Homo sapiens: one gene and its partner. The protein of the gene in region 2 purifies or fractionates together with the protein of the main gene of each other region. This does not show direct contact. Each region holds a gene or a part of one and is shown on either strand. Other genes may lie near its edges. The genes, in order: RNF146 and AXIN2.

Region 1 (16,322 bases), on a different chromosome or scaffold from region 2:
GTAAGTTCCTTGATGACCAGCACCTAGACTATCTGACCTATTAAGATTTTAAAAAATGTATACAGATAGATAAATGGACAGGATTAAATAAAATATATATTTTTAAAGACAAATGCTTATTAGTATCATTTTTCAATTATCAAATTTTCAATACTGAATAAAAATAATATGGTCATACTTTTAATAATAAATTAATTATTGTTAATACATATCATTACATGTAACCAGTATCATACTGGAAGAGTAGAAAGCAAGAGTTTTATGTCAAACTGGGAAAATGTGAAATAGCATCTACCAAGGTCACTCTTGCTCTAATAAGAAAAACACTGTAATTAAAAGTCAATAAAATATTCACTACATTTTTCATGAATGACATCAAGTTGCATAGGGCTTATATGAATTTAGAAAACAGAAATATATTCATAGTGAAAAATGTTTCATCAATACGGTGAAGTTAAATATGGACAAATCCAAGGTAGTGTGTAACACTTTAAAGCATATCATGCAAAGATAAATGATGAAAGCACAACTAGTAAAACTGGGGATCAGAGTGAAGTGATATGAATAAAATGCAGTGATGTATTATTACATTAAAAAAATCAATTATGTAGAAATTCCTTTAATTTAGTGAAACAAGTTTTTAGTAACTAGAGTTTTTATAACCTAGTAGTCTGTCTTATTTACAAAAGCTAGTACTACTTGCCTAGCTTAGTTATTTAAGAAAATTATTATGTAAAAAGAAGGTAGAACCCAGAGGACCTGGAGATCTATTTCAGCATTCTTTGAGCAAACTCCTGTGTCTTCAGTTTTTCTTATAGAGACTTTTCCTTTTGAGGAGACTTGGAAATCTACATTAACGATAACTTAATGTAAATAAATTGTTAATAAAGCACCTATAAGTCAAAAGAAAATGCTCATTTAATATAATTAAAACTACATATGACAGATACTCAATTTACCACACGTTAAACCAATCCATTTAATTTACTGCAGCACTGAAAAAAACCATGATGCTACACTTACATTTCTATTACAGATCCCACAGATGCCTGCCACAAAAATAAAGCATTTTCTTCACCAGCAGTCAGCCAGCTTACAGTATTTTCTCTTCCACTGCTGGTTCATTCTTTGTGCTGCAAAAGAAAAAAAGAGTAATTAAGATCAAGAGAATCAGTTAATTATGTATAATCCTTTCAAAAAATTCAGTGGAAAACTTTATCTTAAAAGTGGGAAAAATTAAAGACAAGATGCATGCTTTTACCACTGCTATTCAACATGACTGTAAGTTCTAGCAGAGCAAATTAGGGAAAAGAGATAAAGGCATACAGACGGGTAAGGAGGAAGTAAAACTATGTCTATTCTCTCTAGATAGAAGATCTCATAGAATCCCCAAGAAAGCTAATAAACAAATTCAGCAAAGTTGCAGGTTACAAGTTTGACACACAAAAAAATCAGTTGTGTTCTGATACACCAGGAGACAACAATCCAAAAAAGAAATCAAGAAAACAGTTCATTCATAAAGTAACTAAGGGAATAAAATAGCCAGGAATCAACTTAACCCAGGAGGTGAAGGACTTGTACACAGAAAACTATAAAGCATTACTGAAAGAAATTAAAGAAGAGCTAAGTAAATAGACAAGTGATGTATGGATTGGAAGACTTAACATATTAAAATGACAATACTACCCAAAGTGATCTACAGATTCAACATAATTCCTATCACAATTCCAACAACCTTTTTTGCAGAAATGGAAAAGCAATCCTCAAATTCATATGGAATTGCAAAGGACCCTAAGTAACCCAAACAATCTTGAAAAATCCAATGTCAAAACTTACTACAAAGCTAAGGTAACAAGACAGTTTGGTGCTGGCATAGGACAGATAAATACACCAATGATATAGAATTGAGAGTCCAGAAATAAACTCATACATCAATAGCCAACTGATTTTCCAAAAGGGTGTCAAGTCTACTCAATGGGGGAAAACAGGCACCTCTAACTAATGTTGTTGGGACAACTGGATTTCCACATGCAAAATAATTAAGCTGGACCTCTACCGTATACTATATATAAAAGTTAACTCAGAATGAATCAATAACCTAAATATAAGAAATAAAACCATAAAACTCTTAATAGAAAACACAGGAGCAAATCTTCATGGCCTTAGATTTGCAATGGATTCCTAGATATGACATCAAAAGCATGAGAAACATAGGAAATAAATTGGGCTTTATATAAGTTTAAAATTTTTGTGCATCAAAAGACACTGTTAAGAAAATAAAAAGACAAACTGCAGAATGGGAGAGTATCTTGGCAAATCATGTATCTGATAAAGGTTTAATATCCAGAATATGTAAAGAACTGCAGCTCAACAACAAAGACAAACCAATTAAAAAGTGAGCAAAAAATGAGTAAAGAACTTAAAGAAGATACACAAATGGCCAATAAACACACAAAAAGATCCTTAACATTATTAGTAATTAGGGAAATGTAAATCAAAATCACAATGATACATCTATAAGGAGGCTACAACTTTTTTAAAGGGAAAAATAATAAGTGTTGGTGAGGATGTAGAAAAATAGGACCTTTGAAAACTGCTGGTAGGAAGGTAAAAGGGTGTAGCTGCTGTGAATAATAATTTGTTGCTTCCTCAAAAAGCTAACACAGCAATGCCACTCCCAGGGATATAGCAATAGAATTGAAGAGGTTCTCAGACACTTGTATGCCAATATTCACTGCGGAAATATTAGGCAAAAGGTGGACACAATTCAAGTATCTACCAACAGATGAATGGATAAACAAAATGTGGTCTATAAATACAACAGTACATTATTCAGTAATAAAAAGAAATATGTGCTACAATATAGATGAACCTTGAAAACATACTAATAAGCCACATACAGAAAAGTATGATTCCACTTACATGAAATATCAAGAATAGGCAAATTCATAGAAGCAGAAGGTATCAGAAGTTACCAGAGAGTGAAGGAAGGAAAGTGGAGAGTTATTGCCTAATGGGTACAGAGTTTCTGTTTGTAATGCTAAAAAAAAGTTGTGGAAAATCTATAATGGTGATAGTTGCATAACATTGTAAATGAAATTAACTACATGGAATTGTACTCTTAAAAACCTGTACCATCTCAGTCATTAATCTTCTTTCTTCTCATTTAGTATTTCCATCTCCACCTCACCATGTCCACTACAGGACGCACATCATATTACACAGAATAATCAAGAACACATGATAACTAAAGAAATGATAGATCTCACAGTAAACACAAGATAGAGGAGACTTCAATCTTCTTTTATTTCCATGTGGCTCTCATACTATGGGCATCTATCTCCCTACGGTATCTTAAGATTCTAGTGTTTAAAGAAACATATTCTTAATGCCATTATGTGGCCCCTAAATACAAGCTGACTTATCCTACCAAATGTTTAACAGAACAAACAATTTGTTTTAAAATCAGAGAACTTTCAAAAGTAACTGACTGTGATGGTTAATACCGAGTGTCAACTTGATTGGAGTGAAGGATACAAAGTATTGATCCTGGGTGTGTCTGTGAGGGTGTTGCCAAGAGATTAACATTTGAGTCAGTGGGCTGGGCAAGGCAGACTCACCCTTAATCTGGTGGGCACAATCTAATCAGCTGCCAGTGAATATAAAGCGGGCAGAAAAATGTGAAAAAGAAAGATGGGCCTAGCCTCCCAGCCTACATCTTTCTCCTGTACTGGATGCTTCCTGCCCTCGAACATCAGACTCCAAGTTCTTCAGTTTTGGGACTCGGACTAGCTCTCCTTGCTCCTTGCAGACAGCCTGTTGTGGGACTTTGTGATCGTGTAAGCTAATACTTAATAAACTCATATATATATTCTATTAGTTCTGTCCCCCTAGAGAACACTGCCTAATATACTGACTAAACAAGGTTTCTAAGTAACCTTTTTGTTTTACTCTGACTTTAGATGAAATGGACTCCACTATTTTGACTTTCCTCTCAACCCTTTCACCAACTTCAAGGAGCCTACAACTTCAATGGCATCAAAGAAGGCTATGTTCATTTCCTTGCTGCAGCCTACGCCAAACAGAAAACTGCACATTTTCATACACTCCCTATATATAGGACAGGAGGAGACAATTTACTGCTCCAACATCATTACTTTTTCTTTCAAGTCTCTATCACACTGACTTTAACATACCCCATAATCCCCTAAAACTGCTCTCTCACCACCTGTAAGGGATTAATGTCATCTTTTCACTACTGATCATCCTCTTCATCCTAACTCCTGACATGACTATCAGCCTATTTAAATAGCCTTGAAAATGAACCATCCAACACCTATTGCACAGGTTCTTAAACTTGTCCCAACTTCTATTCATCAGAATCACTGAAATTGCTTGTTAGAAATACATATTCTCAGCCCCTTTCCTTAGAAATTCTAGGCCAGTAGACATAGGTTTAAACCTAGGAATCTCACCCCAGGTGGTACTCATGCTTTAGTCCTTCAAATACAATCTGAGAAACACCATCCTCAATTTTCAGTTCCTTAAATCCTAAATTTGAAGAAATTAATCTACTCTCCAGCAACCAAATATTATAATCACATTTAAAGCTAGTTGTCACCTAAACTGCTGCCTCTCTGAAATCTTAATCCGACTCTCAGATCACAAGCTCTGGTTCTTCCAGCCTACTCATTCCCACACCTGCTCTTCAATTTCATGGGGACCTACCATCTCTTGACCATCTCCTTTCCTTTATCCAGTTCCTGATCTCATTTCCTTTCCTGCCCATTCTGGAACCCAATCTTTTTTACTTCTTAACAGAACCCTTGGCCCCCTCATATCTTTATCTCATATACACACATTTTACAAACCCCCATTTCTGCATAATTCTTACAATATGACATCTCAGGTTTCATGTCTTAACTACTTTGTGTTCATGGAGAAAAAGAGAAAGTCCTTTCTCTCACCACACAGCCCCCTGCTCCCCCACCCCAACCAACCACACCATAAATTCTGTCAACTTTTATTCCTAATCCCTTTGGAATCTATCCTGTACTCTCTACCCATTGCTAGTGCCCTAGTTTAAACCTACATAACTCTCACCTGGACTATTGTTCAGCCTGATTATCTTGTGTCAGTATCACCCTCATTTATTAAGCCTTTGAGTGAGATTCTCTCTCTCTCACTCTCTCACACACACACACATACACTCACTCTACAGTCTGTTTCCCAGGCTAGAATGCTGTGGCATGATCATAGCTCACTAAAACCTCAAACTGCTTGGCTCAAGCGATCCTCCCATCTCAGCCTCCCAAGTAGCTAGGACTGACTGATATATTTAAAAGGCAAAATGGACCAGGTTTCTTCCATATGTGAAGCACAATATTGGGTCCTCAGCCTACACAATAAAGACAAAGCTCCTTAGGACAACATTAAAAGGTTTTAAAGATCTAAACTGTAAATAATTAGTCTCTAGTCTTTTTTATCTTCAACAACCACCCATAGATTAATAATCTAGTTGTATAAAATTACTCATAGTCCTGCAAACCTCCCTTTGTAGCTCTGTATTTCCTCCTGCCTGGTACGATCTATTCCCTTTTACAGCTTATGAATGCCTATTTGTTCTTTAATATATTACACAGAAATGGTTATCTCTACCATTTTCTCTGACTACCTCCAGAAAGTTAACTGTTCTCTCCTCTATGTTTTGTATGTTTTTCTATTACGGAATTTATCACATGCACTAATTTCAATTCATTTGTGAAGTCTGACTCTTCTGTGAAATCATGAATCCCCTGAAGATAGGGAGATTTTTATATCTTTAAATAGCTAGTAAATTGTCAATCAATTTTTGTTGAACTGATATTTTTTGGATGAATGAAAAATCAACTCCTAAAAGTAACTATTGTGAGGAACAGAATATCAAAGGATTAGATTTATTCAAATAACACAACACTTGAGTTCTAATTGTGAACTCAAGCTGGAATCTGTAAGATACATAAAAATATCTAAGTTCTAATCCTTGCTTTATATAACTTAAAATCTAAAGGAGTTCCTACATTTACAAATATAAAATTCAACCCATCTTTGTATCTTTTGGCAAGCAAATCATTTACCCAGCTATTGTTCATTGTCAATGAATTCTCCAAAATGGAGATAAAAATCTAAGCATAAACCAAGATGGGTTTCTGAACAGCCAAAACAGCTTCACAAAGCTCTTTCCCCAATAAAGCTTATGATTCTTCACTAGGATGACCACATAGGTCAGCCCAGCATCTATCCAGTTTGCCCTTGGTCTCCCAACAAGTGTTCCAGTTCAGAAAAATTATACAGACATTCTACCCTTTACCCATCACAAAGGTTTTCGGACCATCACTCAAAAGTCAATTTGCTCTTACTTTACCCACAATTCTTTTGTTTTGTTTTGTTTTAAGAGACAGCGTCTGTTAACCAGGCAGGAGTCCAGTGGTATGACTGCAGGTAACTTAAACCTCAAACTCCTGGCCTCATGTGATGCTCCTACCACAGGCTCCCAAAGTGTTGGGATTACAGGTGAGGGCCACCATGCCCAGCCTTTACCCACAATTCTAACTTGAAGTTTTTTGGTCCACAAAGTCCTGCTGAGTGTTGCTGTTGGTCATTAGCACTGCCTATCCTTCGCTATCTTACAAGTCTTTTAAGATGTACCAATCCATCCTTCTCAGAACCTAATTGATTGAATGGTAAAACCTCTAGTGTGAAGATTCAATTAAAACATTTCTTCTAAAAATTTCGTTCAATCACTATTTGTACTTTAATAATTGAGATGTGTAGAAGGTACCATTTTATTCCTAAGAAATACACAAAAAATGTCCTTGTTTCTAATTCTCCTTATCTCCTGAATGCATTTACACATTATCTGTAACCAATCTAATTTATTCCTCTCTATTCACTTACTTTACTTAGGTCTTATCCATAAATATTTTATCTCTGAAACAAAAGTTGATTCTTAAAGGAATCTAAGTTAACTGAAACAAAGCAGCTTCAAAATAAGTACAAAAAAATCCTCTAAAGAACCCATATTTGAACACCCAAATAAGCTGTGATCTTTCCTATAAAACTATTTCACATAGCTGAAATAAAGCTATAGCCACAAATATTAAAGTAAAAGCTTTGCTACATATCCACTAGAACAAAGGTACTAAAAAAAAATCTGGTTAATTCAAGGAGATGCATTCTCTCATTCTGCTTTCCTTATTTGAAGACTAATGATTAAATTCAAGTAACTTATCAATAGCAAAATTATTTGAAAAAGCCCCTTATAAAGAAAACACACACACACACAAACCCAGGAGCAGAGAACTATTTACTTAATAGTACTGAAATAACAGCAAAGTATCTATGAATAATGACTTTCCATCAATATAAACTTTCTCCTTCAACAGAAAGAACATCCTTGCCCTCATTACACTCCTCTAGTCCAGTTATGTTCAGCAGTAAACAAAAGAATGTATCAGTGACCATAACTCACATTCGAGTATCTTTCTATACATTAATGCCATTTTCAAAAGAACACAGCCAAAGACATATTTATTTAGCCTATTTCTTCAATTTTTTTTTTTCTAATTCTGGCCTGAAGTCATTTCTAGGATTCCTTTAGAAATGGCTTTCTCTAATTTTCAAAATATTGATGATGTCATTTCTTTCTTTAAAGATCTTTGACGATAACCTCATACAGCTGACCTTTCAACAACACAGGTTGGAAATGAACAAGTTGACTTATATACATACAGTTTTTTCAATAAATATGTTGGAAATTTTTTTGGAGATTTGTGACAATTTGAAAAAACTTGCAGATGAATCATGTAGTCTTGAAACATCAAAAAAAGGAAAAGAAAAAATTAGGTATATTATGAATGCATAAAACATATATAGTCTATTTTATCATTTAGTATTATAAAATATAGAGAAATTATAAGAAGTTAAAGTGTATCAAAACTTAGTAAACACAGACACATATGGTGCCACTTGAGGTGGTACAAGAAATTTAAACAAATGTAAAGATGCAGTATGAATCATAGCTGTATAAAATTAATTGTAGTACATACTGTAATAATTTCCTGTTGCTATTATGAATTTCCACTTAAAATGCTGTGGACACTAATCATCTCTGCATGTATTGGAGTAAAATGTAATCTCTTGTTCTTGTGTATTTTTCATCATGTTTAGTACAATACCATAAACCTTGAATAACACCATGGGACCCATGTGAAGTGCCACTAGTGATGCTAGAAGTGCTCCCAAGAAGCCAAGAAGTCATGCCATTACAAGAAGTTAAATTACCTGGTACACACCCTAGATGGGTCTGCAGCTGCAGTTACCCATCATTTCAGACAGACACCTTATAAACAGGTAACATAAACACAGTATCGGTAAATGCAGTACTGTAAATGTATTTTTTCTTCCTTAGGAATTTATTTTCCTTTAGCTTATTGTAAGAATATAGTATGTAATGCATATAACAAACAACGTGTTAACTGACTTTACAGTAGGCTATTAGTAGTTAAATTTTGGGGAAGTCAAAACTTATACTCAGATTTTCAATTGTGCAAGGGGTTGGCACCCTTAACCCCATGTTGCTCAAGGGTCAATTGTACTGCCCTCTTATTGTCTTTGAGCATTCTTTTATTTCACCTCTCATTATGCATTATCTTTCAAAAATACATTTGCGTAGAACAACACAACCAGGTTCTTCTTGGCTGAGATTTAGCCATCTTATGCAACCAATAAAAGTGACTCCAGATAAAAGCAGACAAAAAACTTAACAGATGTAAACAGGAATCCTACAGCAGCCCTAAGAGTCCACAGTTCATATAATTTTAGTAAATCTTGCATGCTTTGGTGACTTTTTCAATTTCTATATCCTCATGAATAATTTTTTCAAAGTGCAGACTAACTGGATAAATGCTGGGGAAGGAAAATGAATTAAAACTAACATAATGCTCTAGATCCTAGCTATACAAACAAACTGGGATTCCCAACTAGTACTATCAGCACTACCTGGGAGCTCTTCACAAATGAAAATCCTAAGTGCCACCCTAGACCTACAGAACCAGATCTCCAAGTGATTCACATATATTAGTTAGTGAAACACTACCAAATCCATATGTCACTGAATCCTCAAAACAACCCTGTGAAATATGACTATACCTATTTCACAAATGAGGAAGCCTAAGCTCAGGAAGTTAAATGACTTACCCAAAGTCAAAGCCATCAATATTGGGAGATGCGATTCAAATTCAAATTTACCTTTAAAAATGTCTTTCTACAATGTATTGTCTCTCACAGAAAAGGTCACGTATTATCTAATAGAAATATGATGCAAGCCACGTATGCAATTTCAAATTTTCTATTAGCCACATTAATAATAAAAAGAGGCAGGGCATGGTGCCTCACATCTGTAATCCTAGCACTTTGTGGGTAGTGACACAGGAGGATGGCTTGAGCCTAGGAGTTATAGACCAGCCTGGGCAAGATGGTGAGACCCCCATTTCTACAAAAATAATAATAGAAAGAAACAGGTAAAATTAATTTCAATAATATATTTTATTTAATCCAACGTTTCTACATTACTGCTTCAGTATGTTTCAATATAAATTGTTAATGTAATATTTTATGTTCTTGGGTAAGCGTATGCATACTTCTTTGAAATCCAGTGTGTATTTTACACTTACAGCACAACTTAATTCAGACTGGATACATGTCAAGTGCTCAATAACTCCATGTGGCTAGTGGCTACTTTACTGGGCAATGCTGGTCTAGAATGTCTTGCATATTAATCTTGTTAAATACAAAACTGACAAGTCACTACAGGAATTGTTTAATAGAGACAATGAATTCAATGTTAATTTACCTAGACTTTTGCCGAAGACACATTAAAAAAGAAAACTGCATATTCTGTTATAATCAAAGTTAATGGGTTTAGGTAGCCCCAATTCTGCCAAACTGACCCATCACCTATTAACTCTCAGAATTTATACAGTTGACCCTTGAACAATGTGAGGAGTTAAGAATGTCTACACCCTGCGCAGTCAAAATTCCATGTAAACTTTTGAGTTTCCAAAAACTTAACTACTAATAGTCTACTATTGCCTGGAAGCTTTACTGATAACATAAACAGTGGATTAATATATGTTTTGTATGTTGTATTATATATTGTTTTCTTGCAATAAACTAAAAAAAAGAAAACATTATTTAAAAAATCGTAAGGAGGCCAGGTGCGGTGGCTCACGCCTGTAATCTTAGCACTTTGGGAAGCTGAGGCAGGAAGATCATGAGGTCAAGAGATCAATACCATCCTGGCCAACATGGTGAAACCCCGTCTCTACTAAAAATACAAAAATTAGCTGGGCATGGTGGCGCACACCTGTAGTCCCAGCTAATTGGGAGGCTGAGGCAGGAGAATCTCTTGAATCTGGGAGGTGGAGGTTGCAGTGAGCCAAGATCGCACCACTGCACTCCAGCCTAATGACAGAGCAAGACTCCATCTCAAAAAAAAAAAAAATCATAAGGAAGAAAAATATGTTTACATTCATTAAGTAGAAATGGATCATCATAAAGGCCTTCATCTTTTTCAGGAGGACGAGAAAGAAACATTGGTTTTGCTCTCTCAGGGGTGGCAGGGGCAGAAAAAAAAAGTATTGTATAAGTGGAACTACACGGTTCAAACCTTTGTTCAATGGTCAACTATAATTTCAACTGGGCACAAAATAGGGCATACATGTAATACTTATAACAATCATGTGAAGAAGCCCTCAGAAAACTCCCACATTATTTGAAACCAAAGTTTTTTTAAAGTTGGAGGAGAAGGGATGCTTTTATTTTAACCAATAGGGGGATGTAAAACAGAACAGTATGATTTCAACTACAGGCCAGAATTAATTTGCCAAACATAAATAACTCAAACATACATAATTCCTACTGGAATGAATGACCTGTAAATTTTACACCAAACTTAATATGATGATGTATGAAGAAGGTAACATAAAAAAAAGAAAAAGTCTAAAACCAAATTAGATACTTTGCCCCTAACAATTCTGGAGGAAAAAAACAGTGACAGGTAAAACTTAAAAATACACAAAGGGGTTTAGGGATTATCAATGAATTTAAATCTTGACCCATTCAAATAAGTGAAAAATAAATACAACTAAAAATGAAGTAATATTGTACCATTTATAATTTGTAACAACTCAAAATACTCATACTCCCACTTTTCAAGTCAGTCACAAGATCAAAGTCAAGAGTTTTTTTCAGGTAATAGATTCAAGCAAGCGATTATCTTTAATCAAAGAAAAAGATGAGCATATAACATCAATATAAATACATATAAAAACAAAGACAAATATCAATTATAAATATTTGAAGACTTACTGTATTTTTCTAATTATTAACAGCTAATGTTTAATAAGATTTTTGCCATTTATTCAAAATACACAAAACAGTAAATGTTCTACATGAAATCACTCAGTGACAGAAAGAAAAAATACTTGAAATGTTCCAACTTTTGGTACACAACTCAAAAAAAATTATATATACATAAAAGGAGTAGATAAATCAGGTGTGAGTTAGCAGACACATCTTAGTATTTTTTATAAACCAGTCACAAATTGAGAGATGTAACTAAATGCCCTAATGTCTCAATTTTTAGCCCTCATCATCTCCTGCTAAAAATTAGCTAAGAAAAAGCATAGGTCATACTTGGAAACTTCAGACAAAACTCATTTCAACTAAATGGGGTCTGATACTTTAAAGAATTATTTCCCTTTAAGACGTTACTATGTGGCAGTCTACTTACTGCCTTCACAATCTTTATACTAGCCCATTAAACCCTTTAATTTTTCTCAAAACAACAAAAAAGTGAGCTTTGCATTTTATTTCAAAACATGAGATGTAAAAGTGAACGAATATTGTCTTTTAATCATATCACACACAGATGTTTCTTAGCCAGCAACCATTTCATAAATAAGAAAGCTCTTTGGCAAATTATCTGTGTGACCTTGGTCAAGTCATAACCCCCAGTCTTTTGTTATCTCATCCTACTCTATAATTCTGTAATTCTAAGTTCTAAATGCTTTAATTAGCAGTCCGTTAACAACATTTTGGATTTGAATTAACCCAAAAGGTAACACGCCATGAAAACTAAAGATAGTCCGTAAGTAAGCACAGGTGGTTGTAGCCAAGTGTTACATAAATTAGTTTCTATATCCACAAAGATGTTGTTTCACAAATTCAGATTCCTCAGGCACAAGGCAACCAAGAGAATGGAAAAGGCTCAGTACCTTCTATTACTAACACGGGAGAAAAATACGCATTCGAATTCCCAACTGTCAGTGCTGTTAGATGTTTCCTGGTAGTATATGGTTAACATATAAAATAATATTCTTTAAAAAGATCGATATTGTGAAAACAAAAGATTTAATATCCTTTTCTTCTTTTGACTCAAAATATCGTTTTGGATCCTTTAAAAAAAAAAGTCTGTTCCTTTCCTCTGACAAGTTAGGTTGGTGGAGACTGAAACAAAACACTTTGTAAGTTGACATCTCCTTTTAAAAGAAGTTATTTCTTTTTTCTTCTCTTGTCTAAAAGACCAGCTATTTGGAGAGAGTTTTCCTGATAATTATAATTCTACCAAGTTCTGAACAACCAGCGAAGAAAAAAAATATTTAAATGTATTTCCAGTCTGCCCACATGATACACTGGCTCATTTGAGACATAAATTCTAAATGAAAGATTGGGCTGAACAACATCCTCCACTTTAAGATATACAAGGCACCAAAACAAACACATCCAAAATCTATTTTTAGAGTGGTGTTCACTCTTCCGGTTTTCTCTTTAAAACGAGATTTAGTTGACCTATTTTCATGTGTTTTTAGGGCACCCAGACACTCTATACAAACAATATTTGCTAATCATAAAACAGCAAAGCCAAAATCACAAATCCTGTTATCTGTGTGGGACATTTTCTCCACGTGTCCTTACGTGCCATGTCTTTGAAAAGTCTAAATATAGATTCACTGACTAAAATGTCCTAAGTCTTCCAAATTCTATAATTATATACTGGATTGAATGCCAATATTATACGTTCACATCCCATTTGAAAAGTACACACACGAGGTGGGGGGGATGTGCCCACTACCTGAAATGCCAATCATACAAAGAACAAAGCGTACCCTATCATCTTTGGGCTTTCTTCTCTCCTCAGTTCTACACTGTTTCGATATTACAAAAATATTAAACAAAATGTTCAAAACTTGAGAAATAAGTGCTCACTAAAATGGCACTTAGAGAAAATAAATTAAAACATATACCAATATGATTAACGAGAAAAGATTCTAGTTGCCAGGATGTGTGTGTAAACTTACAGTCCTGTAGGTTTTACCTGTGGAGAGGACGGTTCCGTCTCCACTCTTAAAACAATTTTACATTCTTTAGAAGCCTTAGCAAAATAAATAGCGACAACAATGGAAGACCCACACTCCTTCAGACGGGATGGAGGGTAGGAAGAGAACTCCCCACCCAACAATCAGAACAAAGCAACAGCCTCAGCTTTTAAGATGCAGAGGGTTTGGAGGCTCAAGGGATATTCTGAGATCTCTTAATTGTTCCGATGCTTCAACAGCCGTCAAAAACAACTAAGAATATGCAGCGCTGGGCTTCACTAGGACAAGGTGCAGGGATTGCTCTCTTCGTTTTAGGCAAGACCGAGACACTGAGCAGGAGAAAAAAAAGGAGGAAGAGCGAGAGAAGAGAAAGCAGCAGCCAGAGACACTCCGGGAAAAGGCAAAAATGCAGACTGTACGCCCTGGCTTCGATCTGACCCAAGGCCCAAACTGTCTGACCCCACACGGGAAAACATGGAGCAGGCTACCGCCGAAAAACCATCGCCGCCCCTACACCTCGAGGCCAGAAGGTCCCCGGGTAAAGGCCTAAAACCACGGCCCAGAGGGGAGGAGAGGGACCCGCCTGCCACCCGAGGCAGCGAAGCGGGCTCAGGCGGAAGAGGCTGCGCAGTAATGGCCGCTGCTCCGCCCCTCGCACCCGGACCGAGACCAGCTCCGGCCGTCACCCAGGGCAGGGGCTGCGGCGCCCTCGGGCAGCGCAGGGGCTGTCACGGTCGTCTTGCCTGCCCCAGCAGCCAAGGCGGGGGTGGCGGAAAGGGCTGAACTGTCCCATCCCGCCTCTGCGCGGACAGCCGGGGCCGCGCCAGCCCAAGGGCGTCCATCTACGTACCGGCCCCTGACCCCGCCGCCGCCCCTCTCAGGCCCCGAGCGCAAGGCCGACCCGGAGTACGTTGCGGCTGGAGGTGACACCGCGAGCTATGCCTCCTCTCCCCGAGTGAGGATCCTAGAGTGGCCGGCGTTCACCCTGCTCCCCCGAGAGGGCCTCGCTCCGACTCCCACCTCTCCGGCCACAGCTGCGGCCACCTCGCAGTCTTTTCTCTCTGGCCTCGGAGCCCGCAGCTGCCGGGAACGCGCGCGGCCGTCACGTGACCACCCGGCGCGTCGCGGAGGAGGGGCCGCGACGCGCCGCGCACCCGCACCCGCACCGGCGAGCTAACTCCGGCGCCTCATCGTTCTGCCCCTGTCTCGCGCCGCTGTCTGCCGGTACTCTCTTGCCTGTGGGGAGCGGCGACTTCGCTGCTTGCATTCTTCTGGCTTCTTTAGAGTGTGCTTGCTTTGTATTAGGGCCCAGAGGCTCTGAAAGAGTGCAGTTCCAACAGAAAGAGATTTGGGGTGGAGGAAGTAAAACGTGTGTAGGACCAGCAGGTGGTGCTGCTCAAAAATCCAGCTTTGCTATCCTGAGGAAGCTCTGGGGCGCCTAGCTGAGTTTCGGCTTAAAGATCCCTTAGCAAAAGTACTGCTTGTTCCCTTTCAAGAAAAAAAATGGGGAGGGGGGGGACGGAGGGGAGAGAGTACTGTAGGACTTTCCAATTTGTTCTCCTTTTTAATGGTTGAGCAATTTAATCGGGGAAAAAATGAGTATTAGTTTTCTTTTGAAACCCCACCCTTTTTTTAAAAAAAACAGAATAGTGCCTGAGAAACTGAAGAAATTAATCTGCATGATAATCTAAAATTAAAGAGGTTATTTTGATCGCAAGCCTGTGGTTTTAAACATCAGAACTCTAGCAGTAATTCACCATTTTAGCATGTACATTTCCTTTTTCAGAACTGATTAAATTTTCCTAATTTGTAGGAAAATGAAGAGGGTGGAAGAGCAGACCTTTTATCTTTAGAAGAGTATGTATTTCAACATTCTATGACAGCGTCTTCTCATTTGCATTAGTGTTGCATTTTGGGATTTCATTAACTGTTTGATTCAGGATTGGAAGTTTTCAGTGTCCTTATAGGTATAGAAATGTATATGTTTTCTGTTATTCCTCTGAAATCAGTTTATTTCAGGGTTCTCATTCATATATATCAATATGTAACCCAATCTCTTGAAGGGTGCATCTAGTTCAGTGATGCTTGCGCGTGTATGCAATACTGTTCCATACATGTAGAAATATTGAAGTGTATATCCTTTAACTTTAAGCTTAGTTTTCTATCTTTATCTTCTTATTAGCCACTCAGTTTTGTCCCTCTATCCTACACAGCCCATGAACAGAGAATAGCTAAAATTTGATATGTACTCGAAGATTCCAGCTTGAAGAGGTAATGCTAATATTAACTAACAATGTGCCAGGTGTTGCTCTAAGTGCTTTATTCATATATACCCACTTAATTCTCATAATAAACTATGAGGTAGGCACTATTATTATTCCCATTTTACAGAGAGAGAGACACACACAGCTGAGATTTGAATCCAGGCACAGACTGTAAGATGTCAGCTAGTTCAACCCCTTCTCACTCATACCCAAGGTCTTTGTATTTCAGTAAATGGTTGCATCTTTCCTTGTTCAAACCCACCTTTAACTCCTCTCTTTTATGTCTTATATGCATTTGGCATATAACCTGTTGGCTCTTCCTTCAAAGTATATCCAACTACTTACCACCTCCGCTACAATCTGCATCATCTCTTGTTTGGATTATAGTGTTACGGTAGACCAGGAACTAGTCTTTTGACTCTATCCTTAATACAGAATCCTAAATAAATCTACTTAAAAAGAAGTGAGATCGTACCACTCCTTTGCTCAAAGTCTCCTGTGGCTTCCCAACACAAGTAAAAACCAAAGTCCTAACGATGGCTTTAAAATCCTCCCCTCATTACCTCTTTGACCCCACAGACTGTTTACCCAGCTTTGTATTCCCAGAAAGCTCTCCACAAGCTGCCAACCTCATAGTCTT
Region 2 (16,557 bases):
GGAATTTTTCTTCTTCCAGTTCCTCTCAGCAATCGGCGTGGTCTCTCTGTCTCTCTCAAGTCAGCAGGGGCTCATCTGAACCTCCTCTCTGGAAAGAAAAGGAAGGGGGGAGGTGGGGAGAGAGAAAAGGGTATTGATCTAATCAAAACCAGATCTACCCAACATCAAAGCAAGAAAGTAAACAGGCTTTTCAACTCCTCAAATTCAAATCAAGCAACCCAGCTATCTGCGAGGTGCTCATCTAAAGTATCAGGCGCTGCTTTTCAAAAGCGAAATCTGAGCTCCCTGCACACTTTTCGGGGTTGGGGGTGGGAGGGAGCTGTTGGGAAAGAGGCGGGGAAGGTGAGAGGAAGGCAAGAGCTGGGGACGGCAGGGGGACACTGGAGGTGTAAGACACAACCTTCCAAAAACCCACTCGGCCAGGGCGCACGCAGGGCAGCTCAGCCCGCGCCTCGCCTTCCCTCCCTTCCCCTCCCCCGATACCATCAACTCCAAAAAGGCGCACTCCCAGCCGCTAGGCTGTGTGCAGGTGAAACCAATTTCGGTATATTTCCCCACTCGGCCCTGCACAGATAACTCGAGCTCCAAACGTGCCCTTCCCCGGCATCTGGTTCCCATTCTCCCCACCCACCCCCTCCCTCTGCGCTCCCTCTTCCCACTCCTTAAAAATTCAGAAGATCCTGGCCCAAGAGAAGCCCGCCCAGCATAGGCGGATTGGGCTCCCGGACTCCCAGATTCAGCACGCAAACACCCCCTCCCCAACTCAGATTTGAGTGTTCGCTACGCGCCCCCTACCCCCACCAAGAATCCAGCTCAGTCAACACCTCTGTCTTCCCTGACCTCCCCCCAAACCAGAAACCAACTCACTCAGGGGAGACTTTCATCTTCAAACTTTGAGAGAGAGCTGAGAAGCCTCGGAACCGTCGCCCCCGTGCCCCCAACCCACCTCCCGGATCCGCGAAACCTACAAAACTGGATCACCAGCCGTCTCACGCCACTACTGCCTGTGCCAAGAATCCCAAACTCTACTGATTTCAAGCCTGTCTTTTTTCCAAAGAAAAAAGTCTTATCTAACCAATAAACAAGCTGCTTTCCCTAGCACGGAAAAGATCAAACTAAGAAGGGTAGGGGCTGAACGGGGTGCAACCCCGGGCGAGAAGCCAGGGACCCCGGATCTGGGATGGGTGCACGCTGAACCCGACCAGAGCCTCGAGCCGCGGGGCTGGGCGGCGCGGCCCACGGAGAAGTGGGGCTGCCGTTGGCACCGCGCTACCCGGGCGGTGGGAGGTGGAGCGGCCCCGTTACCTGGAAGACGAAGGCCGCCGAAGCCAGGCTCTCATGTCCTCCGAGCCCCTCCGGCCCGGTCCCCCGGCCCAAATGCAACTGAACGCCTCCAGAGCCCTGGCGGGCACACCTCGAGGCCGGAACCCCGGGACACGCCAGCAGCGCCCCGAGCCCGGGCGGGGGGTCGGTCCCCGGCGCCGCCGTTTGCAGAGGCGCCCGCAGAAAAAGCACAGAAAGCAGCAGCCTAGTCCAGAAATGGCGACGCGCGGAGTCTCTGCCTCTCCGCAAAAGGGGCCGGGGCGGCCACGGGCGAGGGGCCCGGGCCGGGAGGAGGGACGCGAGGGACACGGGCGCCCCGGACTTGGGCCGGTCCTGCGCGCAGACTGAGCCTCCGCCAGCGCTGTGGGCCCCTTAGCGCGGACCCGCGGCAGGGAGGGGAAAAGGGGAGGGGGAAGAGAAGTAGGAGGAGAGGATGGGGCGGAGGAGAGGCGGGGGGCGGGGGAGGGCAAGCGGGGGGCGCCGCTACCCTTTCATCCCACCTCCCAAAGGCACTCCCGCGCGCACTCACACGCCGACTCACATCCATAACCGCGACAGCGACGCGACCCCCGGGGGGTATCTGCCCCCTCTCCGCCCCCGCCACTGCCGCCACTCGGATAAGTCTCCTCTCTGGGCCCCCCGCCAACCCGGTCACCGCGCTGGGGAGGGGGCTCCGGCGCAGGGCGCGCAAGGCTGCCCGGCCAAGCCCCCCGGAACGCTGGGCGCCGGGTCCGCCGCTCCCCTCCGCGCCGGCCCCTAGCGCGCCCCGAAATAGCCGGCCTGCCAACTTCAAAGGGCCGCCCCGCACATCAAAGCGCGCGGTCCGCCCGGCCGCCTCGGCCTCGGCACTCACCATTGATCCCCGCGCGCGCTCGGCGGCGAGACCTCGCAGGCGCCCCTGGCAGGGGCCCGGCCCCGGCCCCCGGCTCGGCTCGCGGCGGCAGCCCCGGGCCCCCCCGGGCCGGCCGCGGCGTCGGGGAACATGGGGAGTCGTGCGGCGGGGGAGGGGGTGCGGGAAACAACAATCCCGGGTTCAGAGCGAAAGCCACCGGCCGGGGAGGGGGAACGGCGCGCCCCGCCGCCCCTTTTATGCAAAAGATCCGAGCGGGCCTCCGCCCCCGCCCGGCCCGGCTTTCAACGCAGGTCCTGTTTCCAGCAGTCACTCGGCGCACCAAATGTCCTCCGGGCGCTTCCAACAAAAACTGCGCTGTGGATTTAACTGTGCACTTCAAAGGCGCGAGCCGAGCGCACGGTCCTGAAAGGGAGGTACGCGCCGGCCGCGCCCCGGGCCGCCCCCCGCAGCCCCGCCACCGCTCCGCAGGGCCGCCCCGCCCGCGCCCCCCTCCAGGCCCGGCCTCCGCCTGGCCGGGCCCCCTCCCGCCCCCCGCGCCCACGCCGCGGCTCGGCGCGACCTCGCCCCCTGTAAGAGGGGGGCTTTCTTTGAAGCGGCTCCGCTGGGGCCGAGCTTCCACCCCCACCTTTTACAGCAGGGCCTTCGGCGGGCGCCTCGGCCGCCGGGCGGCCCCGAAATCCATCGCTCTGAGGGGTTATTTTTATTTCCCGGCTCTCGGGCTGTTACTGAGTTGCCAGGACCTTATCAAAGCGCAGCCGGCTCCAGCCGACTCCCCCGGGCCAGGCTCGCGGAGCCAGTGATCCCGCCGCGCCAATCACAGCCGCGCTCGGCCGGCCCGCGCCGCCCGCCTTAAAGGGACAGCGCCCCGCGCCCGCCCCGCCCCGCCCCGGCCCGCCCCCGCCGCACGCTCCGCTCCCGCGTTAACCCTTCCCCGGCCTCTCCTCCGCCCCCTGCCAGCCCCCCGCGGCCCCGAGGGCATTCTCAGCCCGAGTTCTGATTTCTTCTTTTAAGTTCTCCGGCCTCTTTGCTCCCGCCTCCTCCCCCTGCCTGCCCTCGCTCTCCCCGGCTCTGGAATGCAACAGTTTCTGGTAGCATTATGGCCATCGCAAGAACTGCAAGCAAGCAGATTTTTTTTTTTCTATCATCAAACGCTTTTCTACCTCTATTCAAGTTTCCCTGGGAATTTGGGCTTGGAGGACTTTATAAAGGGAGTTCCGGCCCTGGGGTTGGCTGGCCCGCTGTCATAGGGCGGACTCGGGCCCAGCCGCTGGAGGCGTGTGCATGCCTGTGCGCGCTTGTGCACGTGCATCTGAGTTCGGGTAAATATAGGACTGCAGTTGGTGGATGAATTGCGTTTGTGCATGTGTGAAAGTGGGGTGTGAATCCGCCAGTATAGGCCTGAGTGCTAACACCAGTTAGGAGGCATACCTCAGTGCCCTGAAGACCTAGGTCCAGCTTCCTAACCTGCTGGCCATAAGACCCTCGTAGCGGCACACATTGGCCATCTCTCCCAAACAACTGCATACCCGTTACTCTTCCAAAGTCCCCTCTTCTGCCATATGTTACATATTAAACCGATAGGAATATCTTTTTTCCCACTCCAAACGACAAGGCATGCATGCCGTTTTAATGTATCGAAAACTCCTCACCCCATTGTCACCTTTGAATTTCTCCCACATTTGCCCAAAAACGTTTATAAGGCACACACAACCTTCTCTTCTCCGTTAAAATGAGAAAATATGTCACAAACCCAGAGCATTGTGTATTTATTCTGCTGCTGCTATAGAATGATTCCTTATGTTATGAGCGAATAATTAACTTTTCTTCCTTTTAAAAAACAAAGGGCCGGGGACGGTGGCTCATGCCTGTAATCCCAGCATTTTGGGAGGCCCATGCTGGAGGATCATCTGAGGTCAGGAGTTCGAGACCAGCCTGCCTAATATGGCGAAACCCCGTCTCTACTAAAAATACAAAAATCAGCCGGGTGTGGTGGCACGTGCCTGTAGTCCCAGCTACTCGGGAGGCTGAGGCAGGAGAATCGCTTGAACCTAGGAGACGGGGGTGGGGGGGTTGCAGTGAGCCAAGATGGCACCACTGCACGCCAGGCTGGGTGACAAAGCGAGACTCCCTCAAAAAAAAAAAAAAAAAACACACACACACACACACATAAAGGTGTGAACCAAAGAGATCCAAGAAGTGAAAGGCAGAGTCCTGGCCTCAGAGCTGTGCAAGGCTCTTACTCTCCAACTTAATGGATGACGAGCCCTTTTAAATGCGAGATGGCCTGTCATTAGGCCTTCAGAACTTTAAAACATGCAAGAATTGTGGCTCTATCTAGGTATCCATAGAAAAAGAGAAGGAAGAGGCTGGGTGTGGTGGCTCACCCGTGTAATCCCAGCACTTCGGGAGGCCAAGGCAGGCGGATCACCTGAGGTCAGGCATTCGAGACCAGCCTGGCCAACATAGTGAAACCCTGTCCCTACTAAAACTACAAATATTAGCCAGGCGTGGTGGGGGGCGCCTGTAGTCCCAGCTACTCGGGAGGCTGAGGCAGGAGAATCATTTAAACACAGGAGGTTAAGGTTGCAGTGAGCCTGGGCGACAGAGCAAGACTCCATCTCAAAAAAAAAAAAGAAAAGAAAAAAAGAGGAGGAAGATCCACCACCCATGATCTGCTGGAAAGGGGCAGGTGGCAGGACTGTGCGCCACCTGCCCTCAGCCTAAGGGACTGTGACAAGGGACTAGAAAGCTCTTAGACTTTCTAGTCTAAGACTCTGGACTCTGGCTCGTGGGTGCCATGACAGGTGGCCGCTCCTCCCCAAAACCTGCCTTTCGGTGCCCATGGTCTGCAGCTCCAGGCTCTCGACCCCAGGCAGCCAGGTTGGCATAAAGACAGCAGTACCAGCCCTGAAATGTGGCCCTGAAGCCAGCCAGGAAGGCCAGGGAAAGAGTGTGGCCCGATGACTCATCTTTGCCTTAGGACAACTGCTGGTGTGAGGAAACCAGTGGGCTCTAAAAGCCCCGGCCTGCTGGTATTCTGGGGGGTCAGTGGCCCATGGACCCTCTTAGCCACCAGCTCTGAGCTGGCCCAGGGCCAAGAACACAGCCACCACCTTTGGCCACCCCAGGAGTGCCAAGAGTAAAACTGTCACTGTGGTTCCAGGGAGTCTTTGGGCCACAGAGGGTGTTATTACTGGAACAGAAATGTAGACAGAGGGGTATGGATTGCCATAAAAGTGTCTACCATATAAACAACAGTAAAGTCACACACACACACACACACACACACACACACACACACACACACACAATGTGGGGGGTGGGGGAGAGAGAAAAATCAAAACATCTAAAATCAAAATAAACAATGTTCAGAAAAAAGAGGTTTTCAAAAAGGAAGTGGAAACTTGGTCTTTGTGGGTGGTTTTCCTCTCCTCCCAGTTGTCCCCACCGACCCGTCACTGCCTCCCCCAACCAGCCCTAATCACTGTAGGCTCAACTTTAACCAAAGGACTACCTCATTATCCCATGGCTGCGACTGTAGCAAGAGGGGACTGGGACTGGGACTGGGGACCCAGGAGCAAGGCCCGGTTTGGTTTGGATCTTCTCGGTCAATAATAACTGCTCTGAGGGCCGGGGTGCAGTGGCTCATGCCTGTAATCCCAGCACTTTGGGAGGCCAAGGCAGGTGGATCACCTGAGGTTAGGAGTTCGAGACCAGCCTGACCGACATGGAGAAACTCCTTCTCTACTAAAAATACAAAATTAGTCAGGCATGGTGGCGCATACCTGTAATCCCAGCTACTTGAGAGGCGGAGGCAGGAGAATCGCTTGAACCCAGGAGACGGAGGTTGTGGTGAGCCGAGATCGTGCCATTGCACTCCAGCCTGGGCAACAAGAGCAAACTCCGTCTCAAAAAATAAATAAATAAAAAATAACTCCTCTGAGAGCATGGTTTCCAGAACAGGTGCTCGGGTCACTTTAGGGCAGTGACTCCCTCCACCATCACCCCTGGCCTGTCCCCTTTCCTACAGCTTTATATCTGGTGGGACACTTCCCTCCCAGCAGGAGGCTGGGCCAAGTACTGGAAAGCCCTCTCTCTAGCCTCTGGGTCTCTGACTACTTGTTGATAATATTTCTAGAGGAGAATCCAAAGTCCTGTGCTTATAGCAGCCCGTTTCTCAAGATAGCACGTTTTCCATTTTCCCCTTGTCCCTGGCAGCAGCGCTATCATGTGACTTGTTGTAATCCTGCACGGTTGCCTGGAAACTGGAAAGCAAGGTGATGGATTTCTGCACATGCTCACTCGCCCCCCCGCTCCACCTTTAAAGAAAAACCCTACGGAGGATAAACAGTCCACTTTGCCTAAGTGCAGACAAGTTTAATAAAGCAGAGAGTGATTCTTTGCTGGAATTATATACTGGGCTGAAATCCTAGAATCCCAGAAAACAAGGACTAAGGGCTCCCTGGGAGGCATCTGGCCAGATCTCTGACCTTTAGTCAGCCCCACAAAAACCACTGTGGAGGGGAAGTCACACCAGCTGGGACTTCAGAGGAGCTGAGACCCAGGACACTGCTCTCTCAGATTCAGTAACTTTGTCTTTTATTCCTTTGGAAAAGTGCTGCCTTAGACAATGTACCTTTGTTTGGGGAGGAAGGTGAAGAGAGACACAGGTAACCTTTCCTAAGACTGGAGGTTACCTAACCACACGGAGTTTCCATTTGTTCACCTGTAGACTGGAGGAAACCTCCCCTGCAAAGGCTGTTGTGAGCCTGAGCAATACGATAAATGCCTGGCACAGAGCTGGACACACAATAGAACATGGCGGTTATTTTCACAGAGTAAGTCTGTTCCCTCAATAGCCTGTTACCTATTCTGGGAAGAAACTCCCTATCTCCAAAGCAAAGATACCGTCCATTGGGAGTGACGATCTGGGGAAGAATGACCCCAGGAGGCTGACCATAGGGGGCCTAAAGGAGATAAAGGAGGCTGTGCCCTGCTACCATCTTTCAAGGATAGTCCTATGCAGAAAGAAATAAGCCCAGGGGCCATTCAAGAGTTATCTAGTCCAACCCTTCATTTAAGAAACCAGACAAATTGGCTGGGTGTGGTGGCTCACACCTGTAATGCCAGCACTTTGGGAGGCTGAGGTGGGCAGATCACCTGAGGTTAGGAGTTCGAGACCAGCCTGTCCAACATGGTGAAACCCTGTCTCTACTAAAATTACAAAAATTAGCTGAGCATGGTGATGCATGCCTGTAATCCCAGCTACTCGGGAGGCTGAGGCAGGAGAATCGCCTGAACCCGAGAGGCAGAGGTTGCATTGAGCGGAGACTGCGCCATTGCACTCCAGCCTGGGCAACAAGAGCGAAACTCTGTCTCCAAAAAAGAAAGAAAGAAAGAAAGAAATCAGACAAATTAAGCAAAGAGAAAGTGAGATTTCCCCAGGATCACTTTGCCCATATCAGAGATGAGCTGGAACTTCTGAGGGGTCCTGACTCCTGGCCCAGCCTCTTTTTCCTCCACACCATAGTGAGGAGACCCAGGGAGGGGCTGGCTGAGATGGAGGGGGTGAGACCATCTGGAGGTCTTGACTTTTACAACAGGACTAATACATACAATCTGGGATACTTTCCTGAAAGAATCACAACAGGGCTTCTGTCTGAAATCCCTCTAAGGCACGCTTCATCCAGCCCCTACCTGTAGGTAGGTTGCCTTGGCTCTGCCAGCTGGGCTACCCACAGCCTGATCTGGGACAGTTTGACCCACGTCTTTTAGAGTGGCAGCCATTTACATGGGCATCTCCGTGGAGTTGATCCACCTAAGGAGGAATGGACCTACTTCCTCTCCCCTTTGCAGAGGAGGGACTGGGAATGCCAAGGTGGAGATTTTGAAGCCACAAGGGGAAAAGTAAGGTTTCCCTAAGAAATCCCATCTTCAAGGCCAGGTGCAGTGACTCACACCTGTAATCCCAGCGCTTTGGGAGCCCAAGTAGGTGGATCAGCTGATGTCAGGAGTTCAAGACCAGCCTGGCCAACATGGCAAAACCCCATCTCTACTGAAAATACAAAAATTAGCCTGGTGTGGTGGCAGACACCTGTAATCCCAGCTACTCGGGAGGCTGAGGCAGGAGAATCATTTGAACCCAGGAGGCAGAGGTTGCAGTGAGCCGAGATCGTGCCACTGCACTCCAGCCTGGGCGACAGAGTGAGACTCTGCCTCAAAAGAAAAGAAAAGAAATCCCATCTTCAGAAGTGTTGGGGGAATTTATTTGTTGATAAAATATCTTTTTTTAATATGAAATTTAAAACACAGTTAAACAGTAATTTAAAACTTCCTAATTGGACTGACTTTCAAGTGCTTTTATTATGGATTGTAAATAGAGCTGCAAACTGCTGATTTTTTTTCAGCATCTCACCCTTCGTGGTCTTCAAGTTTGGCTTTTAGGAGTTGGCCTGAGCTTGTAACCAGAGGAGAGCACCGATATACCTATATTAAAACAAATCCAGAAAGAGGTTTTGCTTTCTTTTTTCTTTATTATTATTATTTTATTTTATGTATGTATGTATGTATTTATTTATTTTTGTTTTTTGAGATGGAGTCTCGCTGTGTCGCCCAGACTAGAGTGCAGTGGCATGATCTCGATTCACTGCAACCTCCACCTCCCGGGTTCAAGCAATTCTCCTTTCTCAGCCTCCCAAGCAGCTGGGATTACAGGCACCCGCTACCACACCCGGCTAATTTTTTTTTTTTTTTTGTATTTTCAGTAGAGATGGGGTTTCCCCATGTTGGCCCTGTGATTCCCCCATCCTGACCTTGTGATCCGCCTGCCTTGGCCTCCCAAAATGCTGGCATTACAGGCATGAGCCACCGCCCCCGGACCAGAGGTTCTGTTTTCTTAAGTGATCTTCTCCACAGTGAGAGACACCAAAACAAAGGGCGAGGTTGGGGGAGAAAACAGCCCCGAAAGGTCATTTTTAGAAAAGGAACTGGAAAATAGAAAGGAATCCCCCTAAAGTCGTCACGCCAACCTGCGACGCGTGTTCCTAAACCGCCCCCCGTAGACATTTTTCTCACCTTCTGATATCTTATTTTGCTCATTTTAAACAACTTCTGGAAAGCAAAGTTTAGCTGAGCTTGAAATAAGTTGCCTTATTCACCTCTGGGCACAGTGGCTCATGCCTGTAATCCCAGTACTTTGGGAGGCCGAGGCGGGTGGATCACGAGGTCAGATAGAGCCCATCCTGGCTAATATGGTGAAACCCCGTCTCTACTAAAAAAAATACAAAAAGTTAGCCGGGCGTGGTGGCACGCGCCTGTAATCCCAGCTACTTGGAAGGGTGAGCAGGAGAATAGTTTGAACTCGGGAGGTGGAGGTTGCAGTGAGCCGAGATGGCGTCACTGCACTCCAGCCTGGGGGACAGAGCAAGACTCTGTCTCAAAAAAAAAAAAAAAGAAACCTGGGCCACATCTAGACTCCGCCTTCTCCCTCAAACGCCTCCATTCATTCACCCAGCCCTGTTGATTCTGCCTCTAAAAAAATCTCCCACCACCACCTCCTGCTCTGCAAATCCACAACTGCTATCAGGGCCCTTGCCAGGGACAGCCAAATGTTCTAATGATGCTTCACACCTACAGTTTATAGCCCTAACCCCTGACCCCCCTCACGCAGTGCTGCAATGGTAAACGCTGTGCAGTGCAGAGCCACCCATGTCATTCTCCTGCTTCAGATCCTCCCCGGCTGCACATAACCTTCAGGATAAGGCCCAGAACCCTATGTGTGGTGCACAGGTAGCCGGCCCAAGCCCAGGCCCTTTTCCAGCTCTATTTCTTTTTCTATCTTTTTTTGTTTGTTTGTTTGAGATGGAGGAGCCTCGCTCTTGTTGCCCAGGCTGGAATGCAGTGGCCCAATCTTGGCTCACTGGAACTTCCGCCTCCCAGGTTGAAGTGATTCTCCTGCCTCAGCCTCCAGAGTAGCTGCGACTACAGGCGCATGCCACCACGTCTGGCTAATTTTCATATTTTTAGTAGAGACGGGGATTCACCATGTTGGCTAGGCTGGTCTTGATCTCCTGACCTCAGGTGATCCACCCACCTCGGCCTCCCAAAGTACAGGAATTACAGGCGTGAGCCACCATGCCTGGCCCTCCAGCTGTATTTCTTGCTGACACCCCCTTGTCCCTACCATATGCATGGTGGATTGCCTCTCCTTTTCCTCCCTGGCCGACTGCCCTCCCTCTGCCACTTCTTCAGTCCTCTCCCACCTCATCCCCCGAGACCGGGCTAGAGCCCATCCTCCTACTTCTGTGGCATCTGGGGCTCACCTCTAGCAAACACTGTGGTTGATCTACTTCTCTGTCCCACCCACTCAACCATGAACTCTCTGAGGACAGGGACCGTGTTTTGTGATACTTGCATCCCTTGAACTAGATTGTGGGAAGGAGGGACCTGGGCGATATTTAATAGCTGGTGAAACCTGTGTACCGGCCAATCAGAACTGATACCAGCCTAGGGTCTGGAACAGGGTCTTGGAAACCCCCTGCCAGAGTCAAGCCAGTAGTCGCTGTGTCACGAGGAGCTGTGGTTGGCATCCTCTAAGTTGGGCCCTAATGATCCCTGCTTCCTAGTTCCACACCCTGCATACTTCCCTCCCCTTGAGCATGGATAGCATTTGACTCTCTCCTAATAAATAGAGTATGGCTGATGTGACAGCACATCCACTCCACATTAGGCTATCGAAAGGCTGCGATTCCTTCCTTAGGTGCTTTCCCTAGAATCTTGAGGCATCCCTGTTGAGGGACCCGTGTGACGAGGGACAAGCCCTGCCACCAACCAAGTGATCTCAGAAGCCGAACGCCACCTAGGCAAGCCTTGACATGATGCAGGTCCAGCTGCTGGCTTGCTGGTAGCCTCATGGAAACCTCAAGGAGGAGGCACCCGGCTAAGCCATGTCCAGATTCTGGACCCACAGATGAAGATGTATCCTCTGGGGAGGGGAGTGGTGAAAACTGACCTGCTGATGAGACTTCGCCCTGTCAGTTAACATTGCTAATGGTAAGAACCCAGTTGCAAGACATACAGGTTGTGAATCTTTTCTATACTTTATTTTTTTTATGTTTTCTTTTTCTGAGACAGAGTCTCGCTCTGTTGCCCAGGCTGGAGTGCAATGACGTGATCTCAGCTCAGTGCAACCTCTGTACCCAGGTTAAGGTGAATCTCCTGCCTCAGCCTCCCGAGTAGCTGGGACTACAGGTGTGCACCACCATGCCTGGCTGATTTTTGTAGTTCTAGTGGACACGGGGGTTACACCGTGTTGGCCAGGTTGGTCTCAAACTCCTGACCTTGAGTGATCGGCCAGCCTCAGCCTCCCAAAGTGCTGGGATTACAGGCGTGAGGCACCATACCCGGCCCTTTTCTGTACTTTATGAAATGACAGCACGTTGATGGTCAATGACGACAAGCATAAGCTATTGGCAATAATTATCACATATTTGGGCCAAGCCCAGTGGCTCGCGCCTATAATCCCAGCACTTTGAGAGGCCAAGGCAGGTGGATCACCTGAGGTCAGAAGTTCGAAACCAGCCTGGCCAACATGGCAAAACCCCATCTGTGCTAAAAATACAAAATAATTAGCTGGGAATGGTGGCAGGCGCCTGTAATCCCAGCTACTTGGCAGGCTGAGGCAGGAGAATCCCTTGAACCCGGGAAGCAGAGGTTGCAGTGAGCCGAGATGGTGCCACCGCACTCCAGCCTGGGTGAGAAAAGCCAGACTCCATCTAATGAATAAATAAATAAATATCACATATTTGAAGTTCTTCAAAGGTTACTGGAAATTTCTATTGAAATATATCAAAATTCTAATAGATTAAGAAAGAAATATCAAATTATTTTGAGATGTTACTGAGTTACAGGATAGAGACATTTGGTCACACTCAAAAGCAATATTTGCTTTGCCGCCACCTTTTTCTTCCCAAATGGAAAGAACTCACTGGTCTAGGAGGTAAATGTGAATAGTCCTTGCAAGCTATTGCATTCGAATTAGAGGAGAGGAAATGCATCTTCCCTATGGAGCGACTAGGAACCTGGGAGAAAGGGGCTAATAAGAGGATCGTGTGACTTAAATGTGATAGCAAAATTAGCGGGGACATGGGCTAATTCTATGCATGATGATGGTTTTTAGAAAGCAGACCTCGGAGTCCTTGTCATTGAATTTAGATGGGAATTGGTGGGGGCGGGGATTGGCGGGGATTGGGGGAGAGGATTCCTGAATGGTGTGGCTCAGAAAGACTTTGAAGAAATCTTGGTATTTGATGACCCTTTTAATGACAGTGTGCCCTGGGAGTATGTTCTCTAAACAAACAAGGAGAAATGGTCTACAGATCAGTATGGTTGAATGTTAATAGCTTTCTTAGCAAAAACATTGCTATCACAAACAATAAAATGTGTAGACTGGCCAGGCGCGGTGGCTCACGCCTGTAATCCCAGCACTTTGGGAGGCTGAGGCGGCAGATCACCAGGTCAGGAGATAGAGACCATCCTGGCTAACACGGTGAAACCCTTGTCTCTACTAAAAATACAAAAAATTAGCCGGGCATGGTGGCACGTGCCTGTAGTCCCAGCTAATCGGGAGGCTGAGGCAGGAGAATCGCTTGAACCTGGGAGACGGAGGTTGCAGTGAGCCAAGAATTCGCCACTGCACTCCAGCCTGGGCGACAGAGCGAGACTCCATCTCAAAAAAAAAAAAAAAAAAAAAAAGTGTAGATTGAGACTCACCTCCTGGTAATCATGCTCTTTTGGTAAATACTTTTGCTGATAACTTTTGAGTATAGAAAAAGATACAATAATTATTGAAACTAGAAAATCTATCTTGATAGCTTCAATGAATCACCCAAACACCTAAGGGATGTTGGGGGAAAAAAAATTGGTCAGGTGCAGTGGTGCACGCCTGTAATCTCAGCACTTTGGGAAGCTGAGGCAGGGTGGATCGCTTGAGCCCAGGAATTCAAGACCAGCCTGGGCAACATGGTGAAACCCCATCTCTATAAAAATACAAAAATACAAAAATTAGCTAAGGGGGGCAGGGGGAGAGAGAGCATCAGGATAAATAGCTAATGCATGGTGGGCTTAATACCTAGGTGATTGGTTGATAGGAGCAGCAAACCACCATGGCACACGTTTACTTATGTAACAAACCTGCACATCCTGCACATGTATCCTGGAACTTAAAATAAAATAAAAATTAGTCAGGTGTGGTGGCGCACATGTGTAATCCCAGCTATTCGGGTCAGGGGGCTGAGGTGGGAGGATCGCTTAAGTCCAGGAGTTTGAGGCTGCAGTGAGCCGAGATCGCACCACTGCACTCCAGCCTAGGAAACAGAGCGAGACCTTGTCTCCCTGAAAAGTAAAAAAATAAAGAAAACAAAAGAAAGAAAGAAAAAAAGAAAAAATTCAGTGAAAAACAAGTATTGAGCTAGCCCAGCTTTTCAGATAAGGAAGACTGGAGCAAGACATCCCACCAGCTTCAACGGGTCAAGCGGAGTCAGGTTAGGTGACAAGGCACCACCCCCACTGAAACGAGTCTTTCTTTTTGCAAACTGCCTTGTTTTCAAGACGCTCAATTTGTTAAATGCATTCATCTGTCTACCTTTGTATAACTTTTCACAGGAATCCATTGGTTCACAAAGCAGAAAATGATCAAGACCTGGCAGCCTGACTTGGGGGTCAAAAAATACGGTCACAAAGAGCAGAGTGCAGTGAGTAAGGGGCTCCATCCCCACCTTCTCTTCTACTCCAAGGTCAGAGAAGAGCCAGAGCAATTTGTAAGAGCACAGAGGTGTGAAAGGCAGGTGCCAGACGTGGCCTGTCCAGGGAAGGAGGGGGAGGTAGGGTCGCTGTCTGCAGAGTGGATACTCGGAGAATGCCCTTGGGGACACCCTCAGCTGTAGAACAGATTCCCGAGGTCAAGACCAAGAAAGGCACCAGGGCCACCCAGGAAGGGAGTATGGGGCGCCATGGGGTGGCCTCGGGACTTCACCCATTTCCGCTCGCTCAGGCAGCCACCCACTTTGTGCAGGTCCAGCAGCTGCTCCAGCCGAACTTGGCTTATCTGTAACAGACCTGACCCTCCCCCACTCCATTCCCATCCCTTGAACTTTGACCTTTTCTCCCCAACAAAGGCCACCTGCTTTCCTTTCTCTCGCTGTCCCCAGGAGATGCCCTGCTCTGAATTTCCCTGTGAAAAGGCATCAACCTCAAACTCTACAAGACAATGGAGGGTCTTGCATACGCCTAGGGAGGCAGTTGTGCCTGGGAACATGGGGCTGGGCCTTTTCTTGGGGAGCCACGGTGGCACGAGGAAAGCAGGCACCCAAGGCAGCGGGCACTGGGGCCCCAAAGTGGAACCCAAGAGCAGGGTCTCTGCCCTCAGCAGCCCCCAGTCTGGGGGAGGGTGGGAAGAGGACACCGATAATCCCCGTTTTGATATTTTTTTGTGCCACATGATCGGCAGGAAAGGTGAGACAGACACAGGGCACAGGAGAGTTGGAGGCTGTGGGCAGCTGAGAACAGGAACTGCAAAGACCCCAGGCAAGAGGAAGCTCTGCCTTTTCCAGAAACTCATAAAAACTGAGAACCAGGGAGAGCAGGGAGGGAGAAAGGTGAGGTGGGGCAGACTGGCCTAGGCCGGCTTGGCAGAGCACTGTGGGCCACGGGAAAGTGGTGTTTTCTTTATCCCAAAGTGTCTGGATAAGCCAGGGAAGTGTGGCTCAATGGTTCAACACAGAGGCTCTGGAAATGGACGGCCCCGCCTCCTATGGAGAGTCTGTCATTCCTCTGTGCCTTGGTTTCCCCAAGTGTATAATGGAAGGAATGGCAATGCCTGTCTGGTGGGTTGTTGGGAGGATTAGACGAAGAAGTGATGCAGCTGAGCGTGGTGACTCACACCTGTAATCCCAGCATTTTGTGAGGCCGAGGTGGGCAGATCACTTGGGGTCAAGAGTTCAAGACCAGCCTGGCCAACATGGTGAAAACTCAACTCTATCAAAAAATACAAAAATTAGCCAGGAATGGTGGCATGTGCCTGTAGTCCCAGCTACTCGGGAGGCTGAGGCAGGAAAATCGCTTGAACGGAGGAGGAGGTTGCAGTGAGCTACTGCACTCCAGTCTGGGCGACAGAGTGGGACCCCGTCTCAAAAAAAAAAAAGAAAAGAAAAGAAAAGAAAAGAAGTGATGCAGTAAAGCAGTTAGAACCCCCCTGATGCCCAGGGAATACCTGGTAAGGGTTAGACATCTTTAGAAAAAAAACAAAGAGAGCAACCTGGCCTAGGGCCCTGCTCCCCTGGCTGGGGAGGCCCTACAAGTTATTCGGCTCTTAAAGATGCCCCTCCCTTCCCTATAAAGTGGGAATGAAATATGACAGATTTAAGGTGAGGTTTGAATGGAAATAGTCTAGCCAGTACATTTAGTTTCTGAAAGATGTAAGTGCTCAGCTTTCTGGCACAAATGGCTTCCCAAGGCCCGTAAAGGTCTTGGCGCACATTTAATCTTTTCACTGCTCATTGCAAGTCTTCAGCTAGGGGTAGCGGCTGCAGCCAGGTGACCCCTGGTGAGTCTCCATCAGAATGTGCCCACTCCCATGCTCAAGTCTTGCTGTGATGACAGTGGGGACTTCTAGGTACTTGCAAATGGTCACGTGTTCTTTGAATTCAGGAGCCCTGAACCCTGTACAGCATCACAGCCCCCAGCTTTGCTAGGTGCCCCCATCACCACTACCCTCCAGGCCTTCCTCTGGTGCCAAACGCTGCATTGATGTGTTCTATAATTTTTTTTTTTTTTTTTTTGAGATGGAGTTTCGCTCTTGTTGCCCAGGCTGGAGTGCAATGGCGCGATCTCAGCTCACTGTGATCTCTGCCTCCTGGATTCAAGCAATTCTCCTGCCTCAGCCTCCGGAGTAGCTGGGATTACAGGCCTGTGCTACCATGCCTGGCTAATTTTTGTATTTTCAGTAGAGATGGAGTTTCACCATGTTGGCCAGGCTGGTCTTGAACTCCTGACCTCAGGTGATCCACCTACCTCAGCCTCCCAAAGTGCTGGGATTATAGGTATGAACCACCACACCCGGCCTTGTTCTATAATTCTTGTTCCTTCTCCCAAGAGCTGTAAGATGGGCCCCAGGGGGCACCCAAGACCAGGTCCAAAGGGGACAAAGGAGGGGATGCACAGAGGTAGGAAGCCACAGTGAACCTCTCTCGAAGTATTTGCTACCACGTGTCTGCATGCAGCCCGGGCGAGGCTGTTTGTATTGCATATATGAGGTGCTGGGTTTTTCTTTCTTTCTTTTTTTTTTTTTTTTGAGACGGAGTCTCACTGTCGCCTAGGCTGGAGTG

Evidence for each region.
Region 1: the proteins of AXIN2 (region 2) and RNF146 purify together in Homo sapiens (affinity purification with western blotting; 2 studies listed by BioGRID, with this or other methods). This does not show direct contact.

What each region holds. Positions count from the first base shown.
Region 1 is NC_000006.12:127,265,042-127,281,363, reverse strand, and holds the start of RNF146 (E3 ubiquitin-protein ligase RNF146), read right to left. Parts: upstream 14,501-16,322; 5' UTR 14,439-14,500; exon of another isoform or gene 14,269-14,438; intron 1,134-14,268; 5' UTR 1,026-1,133; coding exon 1,024-1,025; intron 849-1,023; exon of another isoform or gene 1-848. UniProt on the Homo sapiens protein: E3 ubiquitin-protein ligase that specifically binds poly-ADP-ribosylated (PARsylated) proteins and mediates their ubiquitination and subsequent degradation. May regulate many important biological processes, such as cell survival and DNA damage response.
Region 2 is NC_000017.11:65,558,649-65,575,205, forward strand, and holds the start of AXIN2 (axin-2), read right to left. Parts: upstream 3,001-16,557; 5' UTR 2,802-3,000; intron 2,530-2,801; exon of another isoform or gene 2,177-2,529; intron 2,092-2,176; exon of another isoform or gene 1,865-2,091; intron 1,670-1,864; exon of another isoform or gene 868-1,669; intron 89-867; 5' UTR 1-88. UniProt on the Homo sapiens protein: Inhibitor of the Wnt signaling pathway. Down-regulates beta-catenin. Probably facilitate the phosphorylation of beta-catenin and APC by GSK3B.